Regions from separate parts of the Homo sapiens genome. Here region 2 is linked to region 1. The links come from fine-mapping of genetic effects on gene expression. Tissue or cell type: whole blood. Region 1 holds a variant in brackets; the other region holds the start of a gene. All regions are shown on one strand. Distances are from middle to middle.

Region 1 (4,000 bases):
AAAAAGAAATCATTTTTATTTCCATATAGCACAGCTCTACATCCCATACAGTGACCCAAGTTTAAATTTCAAGTTCTGTGAAACATTTGTAATCCCTAGGAAGTCTGGTGGACATCCTTATTCCACAGGTCCCAACTTATGAGGTTAATTAATTCAATAGTGTAGGGCACATGCTTTTGATCCTAGATGTTCTTGAGGAGTATACACTTTTATTTTTCATCTTTTCCCAGAGATGAACCAAATTCTGAGGTATTTTAATATCTATTGATTTCTATCCATTTCTACTGCCAACTAATCTTTTTTTCCAGAGAAATATTCAAAATGCATGCTGGCAACAATTATTTCTTTGTGCAAATCAACTCCATCTCAGGATCTTACTGTCATTGAAACTTGATCCTTATATTCTGGCTATCTCAGTCCTGTTAAGAATATAATTTTTGGAAACAGCTTATCTCTACTCTCTCAGTTAACACTACTTTCCCCCATGTAAGGGGTTATGGGGAATTTTTCAACGACTATTGGAATCCCCTTCCATATTCTACTTCCCTATTTAACATCAGACAACTCTATACCATCACTGGATCTCTTGGTATACTTCTCTAAGTATTGGAGGAATTATTTACTCTGACTCATCTTAAATGGGAGGAAATTATTTGAATATACTCATTTTCCTGGATTTTAATTGTTCCCACAGGTAAATGGAGAAATGAACACATGCAAATTATGTAACATCCTCTACCAAAAATTTTGCAAAATACTCTATGGTAAACATACTACAGTTCTACAGAGGAACTATTTTTATTACTTAGGGTACCCAGAAACCAGCTGGTTGCAACTAATGCAAGACTAAAATGCAACTGAAAATGACGGGCATTTTAGCTCTTTCTCTTCTGTAAGTCTGTGGTTATTTTCATGATAGAAAAAAACTGTATGACACTGCATCTTCTACCTCCATCCATACCCATTCTCCTGCCCCTCACCCCTTACGCTTCATCTTCACCCAGTGATCCCACTCAGCTTCAATATAATTGCTGTTGAACAGTGGAATGCCTTTGCACCACCTTGCAGAGGTTAAGTCGGGTTTCCTTGCAGCCATGATCCAATTCTCACCCCTTCCTCACCCCCAGTGGAGACCACTGCAATTAAGGAAATACTACCTTTTCTTAAACGGAAGATGAATGTCAGTGCTACACCAAGGCATAATAAGATGGCTCCCAGAATTACCAAGTGAGTCCTTTCATTTGGAGGATGTGCCAGAGGTAGTTCTGAAAAACAAAACAAAACGAAAACAAACTGACTAAAGATAAAATTTTGATGGGAAGGGGTCAGGAGAATGGTCATCCTTGAAGTTTAGTTTAGCTTTAGGATAATTTTCTTAAATGCCAAAGTTTGAGTGGCTGGAATGGCGAGATACCTGTGTTAAAATGGGAACAGCATGGAGAAGTGTGAGAAGCCCAGGCTTTGAAAAGGTGGTGCTGGGGCTAAATTCTGCTGCCCTTAACCAGTTTTGAGGTCTTGGGCAAGATACTTAACCAGTGTACAAAATACAAATGCTAATACATTTCTTGTGAGGCTAATATTTATAATGTGCTTGCACAGTACCACATGGAGTGGCTGCTCACTATTAAATGGC[G/T]GCCTTGATTATTTCACTTCCTCTTGCTTTTTTTTTTTTTTTTTGAGGCAGAGTCTTTCTCTGTTGCCCAGGGTGGAGTGCAGTGGCGCAATCTGGGCTCACTGCAACTTCCGCCTCCCAGGTTCAAGCAATTCTTGTGCCTCAGTCTCCCGAGTAGCTGGGATTACAGGTGCACACCACCACACCCAGCTAATTTTTATATTTTTAGTAAAGGCAGAGTTTCACCATGTTGGCCAGGCTGGTCACAAACTCCTGACCTCAAGTGATCTGCCCACCTTGGCCTCCCAAAGTGCTGAGATTACAGGCATGAGCCTCCGCTCCTGGCCCCTCTTGCATTCTTTAATATAGAAGCTAGTAGCCTACAGTACATGGCAGAGATGGCCCACAGTAGAACATGGAAGGCCAACCAGCACTGCTAAGGAGCTCCCACCTCCTCCTATCTGTCATCATGATTGGAGGCCAATGCTTGTTGTCTTATCTTTCTCTGCAGTTTGAACATCTCTGGACAACAAGCCATTAGTATCTCTTACTAGGCTCCTTGTCTGGGGTACCATGCAGGAGGAAAGGGGGTCCCATGGTACACAGATGTTCAGAGGCTGCTAACTCCCACCTCTCACCCTTAGTCAGCTCCTGCCTGGCTCAGCTCTCCACTGAGACCCATGATCCATCTTTGACTACCCAGGTGAAACTTTAAAGACACAACAACAGCCAGCTTTTTCCGTAACTTACAGTTTACAATGCCTGTTCACGTATGTTTTATTTCAGTTTCAGAACAACTTTATGAGTTAGGCATGCCAGGTATTTAAAAAAAAATCCCCAATTTACAGATGAGGAAACAGACTCAGTGCAGTTAGGTGAGTTACTGTAGGCCACCCAACAAGTAAGTTGTCATAAAACAGCTTGTAAATGGCAGGAACCCACTAATCTAGCTTTTACTGAAAGCCAGTTCAATACCTGAGGACTCGTACCCCAGTAAGAGCATCCCCATCATTTTCTAAAGTTTTTTCCCCCTCTTTCTGTTCACAACACCGTCCTGGATTATCTTTTCCTATTGATTGACTTTTCTATCTAATTTTTCAGTTGTTTTTGCTGAAGTACGTGGCATTTTCCTATCAACATGTATTGGGGGAGGGGGCAGTGAGCAGCTCTTCTCAGAATATCTTTGTGTTTATATTAAATATCATGCTCACTCGCCTCACTTTCTTTCACATTCTGAGCCTCTCATCAGACTCTGTCTCCCACCCTACCTACTTCTGTAGAGTAGTGAGATAAAAAAAAATAGTTGAATTTGTGCAGGCAATGGTCTCAAATCATTTTCATACACTGTTGCTAATCTGACCCTTACAATAAGCTTGCTCAGTAGATTATAATCCTACAGGGAAAGTGAAGCACACAGAAGTCTAGTAATTTGCCCAGGGACACACAGCCTCATGTTCTATGCACTAAGCAGACTGCTAGAGTTGAAATATTGTAGACTACCTTGGGAGAGGCACCGGGGAGAAAGGGTCCCTCATGTTTGGCATAAGATAGAAAAATATGTTCCATTTATTTCCTGCCACCCTGGAAAGAGGGAAGCAGCTCTGATGTGCCAGGATTTGGATTCCTGAAACAAGGCCTGAATTGAGTATTCCTCTCAGGTATTCCCCAGGTTTCCCGGCTATGAAAGCATTTCCCACATGGTGTTGGATTGCCTGTTTTTTGTTTGTTTCTTAGTTTTTTATCTGTTTCCTGAAGAGTGTGAACTGAGTCTTATTATTCTATGTGTATCCAATGAGTACTACAATGCATGGAACAAAAGGTATATTCCATAAATATCTGCTGAATGTTTATTAAGTAACAATATGGTTTGGATGAATGGAGGTGAGGAATTAGGATATATTTTGTAAACATAGTGTTATTCATTCATTCATTTATTCAACAATCACTGAATGACTATGATAGGCAGACATCATGCTAGGTGCTAGGGGACAGTGTTAGACATATTTTAATGGACACATTCAGAATATTACCTGGGATGACCAATTCAGCTGTATGGTTTTCCTCAGGATCTAATCTCCTAAAAGTGCAGTAGAAAATCTCATTAGTTGTTGTGTTGATTCTCAGTGTGCTGGTCACATTGAAAAGCTTCTCCTCTCTCTTGGAATTGGTGGTGGTGGTCTTACCACTCAGGACTTGATGGTCACTGCTTGTCCAGATGACTTCGGCCTTGGGGTAGCCCTCAGCCTGACATGTCAGTTCATGTTCAGAGGTGACTGGATCCACAACCAAAATTCTTTGGTTGATTTTGTTGTATGGGGCTAGGACATAAACAAAAAGAAGTCAGGGCTTTTGCTGAGCACAGAACTACGTACATAGCTTGATGCTGTC
Region 2 (7,835 bases), 46 kb before region 1:
CTTTTATTCAAAACATTTACTTGGTATTTACTATGTGCCAAGCTCTAGTATACAAGGGTAAATAAGACACAGCCAGTGCTTTTATGGAATTCTCTGGTCTGTGCAATAAGTGAGGCATAGACATTCTATGGAAGTATCTCAAGAATCCTAGCAAATCATTCCTTTGTGTAACAATAACCAGCCTAAAGGATCATGTTTGTAAAATACTTCATTCTTTGTTAAATACTGCCAGTCTTATCCCATTTGCCTCTTCCCTCTCCCAGTGTCTAGTAGAGCCCGGCTATCCATGAAGACCTAGATAAATGCATACCCAATTGATCTGAAATACCTGAACTAACCACTGTTTTGAAGCCAAGTGTCTAAGACACTAATTGTAATTAGCAATGTCTGAACATAATCTGAATTTGAATGCCTTTGGGCAAGTTATGCAGAGTTTGCCCCAGGTCCTACCATTTTCCATTGTATTAGACCTAGCTGGATTCACTTATTTTTGTTGCCTGACAAACCCAATAGGTATTTGAGTTTTGGGGGGATCTTACAGCCAGTACTCTGCTGTCATAGGTATATGAGTAATTATTTGATCTCTAAACCATCTGTGGCATAGATAGACTACCAGTAGCCTTAAGATGCTATTCTACTCAATTTAATAGAGCATTTAAGTTCAAATTAAATCTCAATTTTTTAAGCAATAAACAGTGAGTTCCCACTTTTTATAAGCCTTTATATTAGAAAGTTGTGAGAATTCATAGAATAATTTATCATTGGAGAATTCATAGAGGGTTTCCTCTAAGAAAGGGCCCTTGCCCTTAAAGACATTGTACCATAATTGGAAGGTTAAAACTCTCACACATGAAAAATAGTAAAACTGATGTAAAACAAGTGATAAAATTGCAAAAGCCCTAGAAGTTGACTAAAGGAAGGGAGACTTCCCAGAGGGGTAGGATTTGAACTGGGCCTTTGAAGCACTGGTAGGATTTGGGGTTGAAGCTATTCTAAAGGGCAGTGCATAGCTGACTCAGAAGCAGTCTCAGAGGTGCAAATGCACAGGCGTGTTGAGGGGACAATGAACAGAGTAACTTGGCTGGACACTTAGGTTGAGAATGTCAAGAGCTTAATGCCAGGCAGAGCTGCCAATCGGGAAATAGTGGCAGTCACTCAAAAACTAAGTGACAATACCAAAGGAGTATCTGAAAAAGATTACATCTAATTTTTTTTTTGAGTATAGAATTGAGGGTGGGTGGAATTGGTAGACAGCCTCTCAATTAGGGGGTCACTGTATTCATCTAGATGTTTGGTAACAAGGCCCTAACTTCAGGTCAGAAAAAGGAAGCAAGGAAGAGGAAGAAGAAACATATAAGACAATTGACAAAACAATTGACTGCTGATCAGCCATGCACAAGAGACAAAGAGAAAAGCAACAAGATTGACTGTGGTTTTAAGACCAGACTGGCAAGACAATATTGGAGCCATGGGGGAGGAAGGGTGGCAGGGAGAAATAGAAGATGGGGAGCTGATTTTAGAGGGAAGACAGTAAGTTTGGTTTTAGTCTGGGCAAGGCATAAGCATTCCAAAAAATTGTAGGTCCAGAGTTTGGGACAAAATTTAGGGCTAAAGATAAGGAAGTTATTTCTAATATGGAAATGTTAGTTAATATTGAGGAATGAATGAACCATCTGATGGGGAGAATATAAAAGAAAGATTATAAAGAAAAGATCTGAACTCAGGAACGTCCCAAAATTTGGAGAGCAGGAACAGAGGACTAGTGAAAAAGGCAGAGACAAGGTGGTCAGAAGAGCATCAGAAGCTCCCCCAGGGCAGTACTTCTGAGGCAATGGAGGAAAATCCCTCAAAGCAGGGGCAGTTCATCATAGGGAGCCGTGAAGACTAAGAACTGGAAGTCAGCCCACAGGTGTGTTAGAGACAGCTGGAAGGCATCAGAGGTGACTGGGGCTAGATAACCTTTCAGATGCTCTTGTCTGTCCTGGAATTCTGTGAGTTGATTTGAAGGTTATCGAGCCCAGCTACAGTGGAGCAGGGTGTGGCATGAGGAGGTGATACTACAGTTGCCCCTTTACAGAGTAACCCACGTATGCAACAATTAAGACATATGACATATTTGGACATTAGCATGTGGAATTAAAATGACACACAACAATCTACTGGTTGCTGTCCAATGTATTGTAAAGCAAATAAACTCTGAAGCATGACCCATAATACTGTCTCTACCATCTCCTTTTTCAAATCAACCTCAAACTTCCCCCTGTCCATTACACGAACATTTCATTTCTGGTGATTCTCCTGACATTTCATCAAATAAATCCATTCAACAATTCGGCAAGCACCCACTAAGCACCTATGTGTATTGCCAGGTACTGCACTAGGAACTTGGGACTCAGAGAACCTTAAAGGTGTGCTTCTTGCCTGTGAGGAGCTCCAGTTCAATGGAAAAGCTCACCAACAGGAGAAATCTGGGGAGAAGACACCCTGAAGCAGCAGACAACAAAGAGCCTGATGATGGGGAGACCTCAAATAATGAAGGCAAATAGATCAGGTTCCAGTGGCAAGAGCAGCAGGACCAGGATTGTTCATCCACTCACAGAATCTTAGGCTTGGAAAGGAGCTTGGAGGACATCCAGGCCAACTCCGTATTTGACCCTGATACAACTGTCTCATTACTGCTCACACTGAATATTTTTACTCTGCATTTTGTCAATTTAGGTCTCTCATTCCCTGCCCCTCAGAGCCATAGTATTTTTGGGTTAAAAGTCCTGATTAGTTGGTAATCTCACTCAGGCTTAGCCTCTCCACCTCCATCCCCTCCACATGAACCCATTGCCTTTGCTCTTCTACTCAGTGCATCCAGGCGGTGAGCAATCAATAGCAATTATTTCAGTTCTGTTTAATTTTTCTACCTTTTCGCTGATCATTTTATATGGAAAGAATAAGCCTTTCCATAGTCCCCAAATCATGCTTTTGTTCAATAATGATTACCTCTATAAGTTATTAAGATAATAGTTTTGGGTTTTTTGTTTTTGTTCCCCCTCCACCAACAGCTGCCTCTTAGGCATAGCTTGTAAACAAAGGCCAGCCTGGAGGGATCACCGTCTGCTAAATGGATAATCACAAACAGATGTCAGTCATAGGAAAACAGATTTTTAAGTTCTTCACCATTAAGCCTCCGAAAACTCTAAGCTGAGAGACAATCTTAAGAATAGTTATATTATTTTACAGTGCACATATTTGGTGCAGAAAATATCTCACCTTATAAAACTGAGCAACAAGAACAATATGCATAGGAACAAGTGAGAGAAATCTGGGGCAGGAGGACATTAGCTTATTTGTGCCCCTCAGCACAATTTCTGAGGCAGAATGTCTCTTGCCTCAAATGGTGTGGAGAGAAGGTAGGCCACCCTTCCCCCACCCTGGCAGCCTCATCATGGTCCACAACATAATAGTATGAGAGTATCTCAACCCACTCGTTACTCACATGAGGACTTGCCACAGCTCCACAAGTAAAGATGCAAAAGTAAACAACAAAAAACAGTTGCTGTTTGTGTTAGATTTCCTTATAGTAGCCACCAAAATGAACAGCCAAAAGGAAAAACAAAACAATCAACATGCAGTAGCTCCAACCCAGGATTCTTTCTAGCTGGGACATATGAGGATGGGTAACAAAAAAGCACTCAAAATTTGGCGTTAAGATATATTCAAGAGAAGAAAAGTTGTTCATTCAGCTTAAGGTTTGCCGTAACATGAGAGTGAGTCAAACCAGAACTAGTTCTGAGGAACTGACGAAAGCCTGGCTTATTTGGAAAGTTTTGGTTTTGCTTTTAGCAGTTTGTCTGTGAATGGGATTGCATTCCTGATTTGGCTCTTGGCTTAGCTATGGTTGGTGTTTAGGAATACTAGTGATTTTTGTATGTTCATGTGGGATCCTGAAACTTTCTGAAGTTTATCAGCTTAAGGAGCTTTTGGGCTGAGACTGTGGGATTTTCTAGATATAAAATTATGTCATCTGCAAACATGGGTAGTTTGACTTCCTCTCTTCCTTCTTGGATGCCTTTTCTTTCTTTCTCTTGCCTGATTGCTCTGGCCAGGACTTCCAATAGTATGGTGAATAGGAGTGGTGAGAGAAGGCAGCCTTGTCTTGTGCCGGTTTTCAAGGGGCATCCTTCCAGCTTTTGCCTATTCAGTGTGATGTTGGCTGTGGGTTCATCATAGATGGCTCTTATTATTTTGAGGTATGTTCCTTCAATACCTGGTTTGTTGAGAGTCTTTTTTTTAACATACCTTGAGAGTTTTTAATACCCTTTTATTCCCTCTCTTTCCCCTATTCTTATATGTGCTCCAGCTTCCCCATTGTCCCTGGAGCACATTTAGGAATAGGGGAAAGGGATGGAATGAAGAATACCAGCATGTCTTAGTGCTGTGCCAGGAAATTGACTCATTTCCTAGGGCTTCTGTAACACATGACCTCAAGTCCTTGGCATTCCCTGACTTATAGTTGTATCACTCCAATCTCTGCCTCCATCTTCAAATGACATTCTTTTCTGTGTGTATCTCTACATTCCTCTCCTCTTATGAGGATACCATCCGTTTGATTAGTGCCCACCCTAATGCAGTATGACCTCATTTAGACTACATCTGCGTAGACCCTACTTCCAAATATAGTCACATTCTGAGGTCCTCAGTAGACATGAATTTGGGGGGAACATTATTCAACTAACCTCACTTCATTTCATAGTGCCTCATTTCATTCTCAGTGCAATGTGTGGTTTAGAGTTAGACCCATTTTACACATGAGAAAACAGGACCAAGATCAAACAATGTTTCCTTAGTTGCATGGCTGAATTTGAACTCGGACCTCAGTGGCCCCACTATACCTTCAGGCTTGTGATTGGTGAGATTAAAACCACATGGCAAGAAAAGGCAAACTTGAATATAGGCCTGAATGATCAATCCTTCTCCTGCTGCCTCCCGCCCTTTTCCTTGTGCTTATAGGGGTAGGACCAGCAGAGATGTGGGGCTGAACACTCAGACAGAGGATGTTTTTAAGAAAACATCTCTCCTTGCCTGTCCTCTAAGCCTTCCCTGCCTCCTTGTTTCTTCTACAAAAGCAAGGATCTCCTTTCCTCCTCCTTGTCCTGCATCCTCTTTTCGTCCCATCGCTTGAACAAGAAGTACTTTAAGAAGTACTACGAAGCTGTGTAGTACCTACAGATGGGAGTGGCTGCCTAGACGGCAAGAGTTGGGACTGTGTCTGTGGGACCCGTGCTTCCTCTGGGGATCTGCTTCTACACCCACGGCTCCAGGCATGTGGTTTCCTTAGGAGTTGCCATTCTCTTACCTGACCCTCTGTTCCTGGCCACAGTGACTGGCTGAGGAATGGACATATGTCCCCTGTGTGGCTTTGAGTTTTAGTATCTATGGAAAACACACCTCACCTACCAGAGTTCCTGTCCTTCTTTAGGAGTGAGGTGCACTCACCACAGTTTCCTTTCCTCTCTCTTGGGTAGCCTTTCTCCAGGCTTGGCCTGCCTCTCCTCTTCACACTTTCCTTTGGGCAGTTCAGCTCTGCTTTGCCACAGTTTAGGGCATCCTGAAGCAAAGGAAGGCCCAGGTATATTCACAGCAAGGCCAAATGAAACTCAAGCTAGTGTCTCAGCACATTAGCCTGCCTCATAAATCTATATGTCTAGAGAAAATAATGGAGGGTTACAAACCAAAGTGTTAATAAAGGCATTTCTGGGTGGAGGTAACTTTTTTTAGTTTTTTGTTAAACTTTTGTTTTACATAGGTAACTTTTTTAGTTTTTTGTTAAACTTTTATTTTACATAGGTAAACTCGTGTCATGGAGGTTTGTCATACAGATTATTTTGTCCCCTAGATACTAAGCCTAGAACCCAGTCATTTTTTTTTTTTTTTTTTTTTTTTTTTTTTTTTTTTTTGCTCATCTCCCTCCTCCCTGGGGCCTCCACCCTCAGCTAGGCTCCAGTTTGTGTTGTTCCCCTCTTTGTGTCCATGTGTTCTTATCACTTAGCTCCCACTTATATGTGAACACATGTGGTATTTGGTTTTCTGTTCCTGCATTAATTTGCTAAGCATAATGACTTCCAGCTCCATCCATGTTCCCGCAAAGGACATGCTCTTTTTTACGGCTCTATAGTATTCCTTGGTGTATATGTACCACATTTTCTTTATCCAGTCTGTCGTTGATGGGCATTTAGGTTGATTCCATGTCTTTGCTATTGTGAATAGTGCTATGATGAACATGTGTGTGCATGTGTCTTTGTGATAGAATGATTTACATTTCTTTGGGTATATACCCAGTAATGGGATTGCTGGATTGAATGGTAGTTCTGTTTTTAGCTCTTTGAGGAATTGCCACACTGCTTTCCATAATGGTTGAACTAATTTACACTCCACCAATAGTGTATAAGCATTCCCTTTTCTCCATAACCTTGTCAGCATGTTGTTTATTAACTTTTTTTTTTTGAGATGGAGTCTCACTCTGTCTTCCAGGCTGGAGTACAGTGGTGAGATCTCAGCTCACTGCAAGCTCCACCTCCTGGGTTCATGCCATTCTCCTGCCTCAGCCTCCTGAGTAGCTGGGACTACAGGCGCCCGCCACCACGCCCGGCTAATTTTTTTGTATTTTTAGCAGAGACGGGGTTTCACCATGTTAGCCTGGATGGTCTGGATCTCCTGACCTTGTGATCTACCTGCCTCAGCCTTCCAAAGTGCTGGGATTACAGGTGTGAGCCACCGCACCCGGCCAACTTATTAACTTTTTAATAATAGCCATTCTGACTGGTGTGAGAGGATCTCTCATTGTGATTTGGATTTGCATTTCTTTAATGATAAGTAATATTGAGCTTTTTTATATGCTTGTTGGCCATGTGTATGTCTTCTTTTGAAAAACGCCTGTTCATGTCCTTTGCCCACTTTTTAATTGGGTTGTTTGTTTTCTTCTTGTAAATTTGTTTAAGTTCCTTATAGATACTGGATATTAGACCTTTGTCAGATGCATAGTTTGCAAAACTTTTCTCCCATTCTGTAGGTTGTGTGTTTACTTTGTTGATAGTTTCTGTTGCTGTGTAGAAGCTCTTTAGTTTAATTAGATCCCATTTGTCAATTTTTGCTTTTGTTGCAATTGCTTTTGGTGTCTTTGTCATGAAATCTTCACTCACTTCTATGTCCAGAATGGTATTGCCTATATTGTCTTCCAGGGTTTTTTATAGTTTTAGGTTTTACATTTAAGTTGTTAATCCATCTTAAGTTGATTTCTGTATCTGGTGTAAGGAAGGAGTCTAGTTTCCATCTTCTGTATATGGCTAGCCAGTTATCCCAGCCCCATTTATTGAGTAGGAAGTCCTTTCTCCATTGCTTGTTTTTGTCAGCTTTGTCAAAGATCAGATAATTGTAGGTGTGCAGCCTTATTTCTGGGTTCTCTATTCTGTTCCATTGGTCTATGTGTCTGTTTTTGTACCAGAACCATGGTGTTTTGGTTACTGTACCCTTGTAGTATAGTTTGAAGTCTGGTAGGATGATGCCTCTGGCTTTGTTCTTTTTGCTTTGATTGCCTTGGCTATTTGGGCTCTTTGTTGGTTCCATATAAATTTTAAAATATTTTTTTCTAGTTCAGTGAAGAATATCACTGGTAGTTTGGTGGAAACAGCATTGAATCTATAAACCGCTTTGGTCGTTTTAATGATATTGATTCTTCCTATCCATGAGCATGGAATGTTTTCCCATTTGTTTGTGTAATCTCTAATTTCTTCTAGCAGTATTTTGTAATTCTCATTGTAGAGCTCTTTCACCTCCCTGTTTAGCTG

Evidence for each region. PIP is the estimated chance that this variant, and not a neighbour inherited with it, causes the effect.
Region 2: it holds the start of PDCD1LG2, and the variant in region 1 is fine-mapped to the expression of PDCD1LG2 in whole blood (TOPMed, PIP above 0.99).

The regions. Positions count from the first base shown.
Region 1 is chr9:5,462,764-5,466,763 of GRCh38, reverse strand. CD274 (CD274 molecule) reads right to left here. Exons shown (of 7, transcript NM_014143.4): 4 at 3,643-3,930; 5 at 1,158-1,265. The region is part of intron 2 of INCR1 (interferon stimulated noncoding RNA 1); the gene reads left to right. Among named protein-coding and RNA genes, the nearest start is that of CD274, 14 kb to the right of the region's middle. The variant G/T (reference allele first, on the strand shown) is at 1,634.
Region 2 is chr9:5,506,456-5,514,290 of GRCh38, reverse strand. It overlaps PDCD1LG2 (programmed cell death 1 ligand 2), which reads right to left and starts at 3,760. Exons shown (of 7, transcript NM_025239.4): 1 at 3,488-3,760. The region is part of intron 2 of INCR1 (interferon stimulated noncoding RNA 1); the gene reads left to right. RefSeq lists enhancers at 3,662-3,711, 3,872-3,931, 3,992-4,071, 4,013-5,212.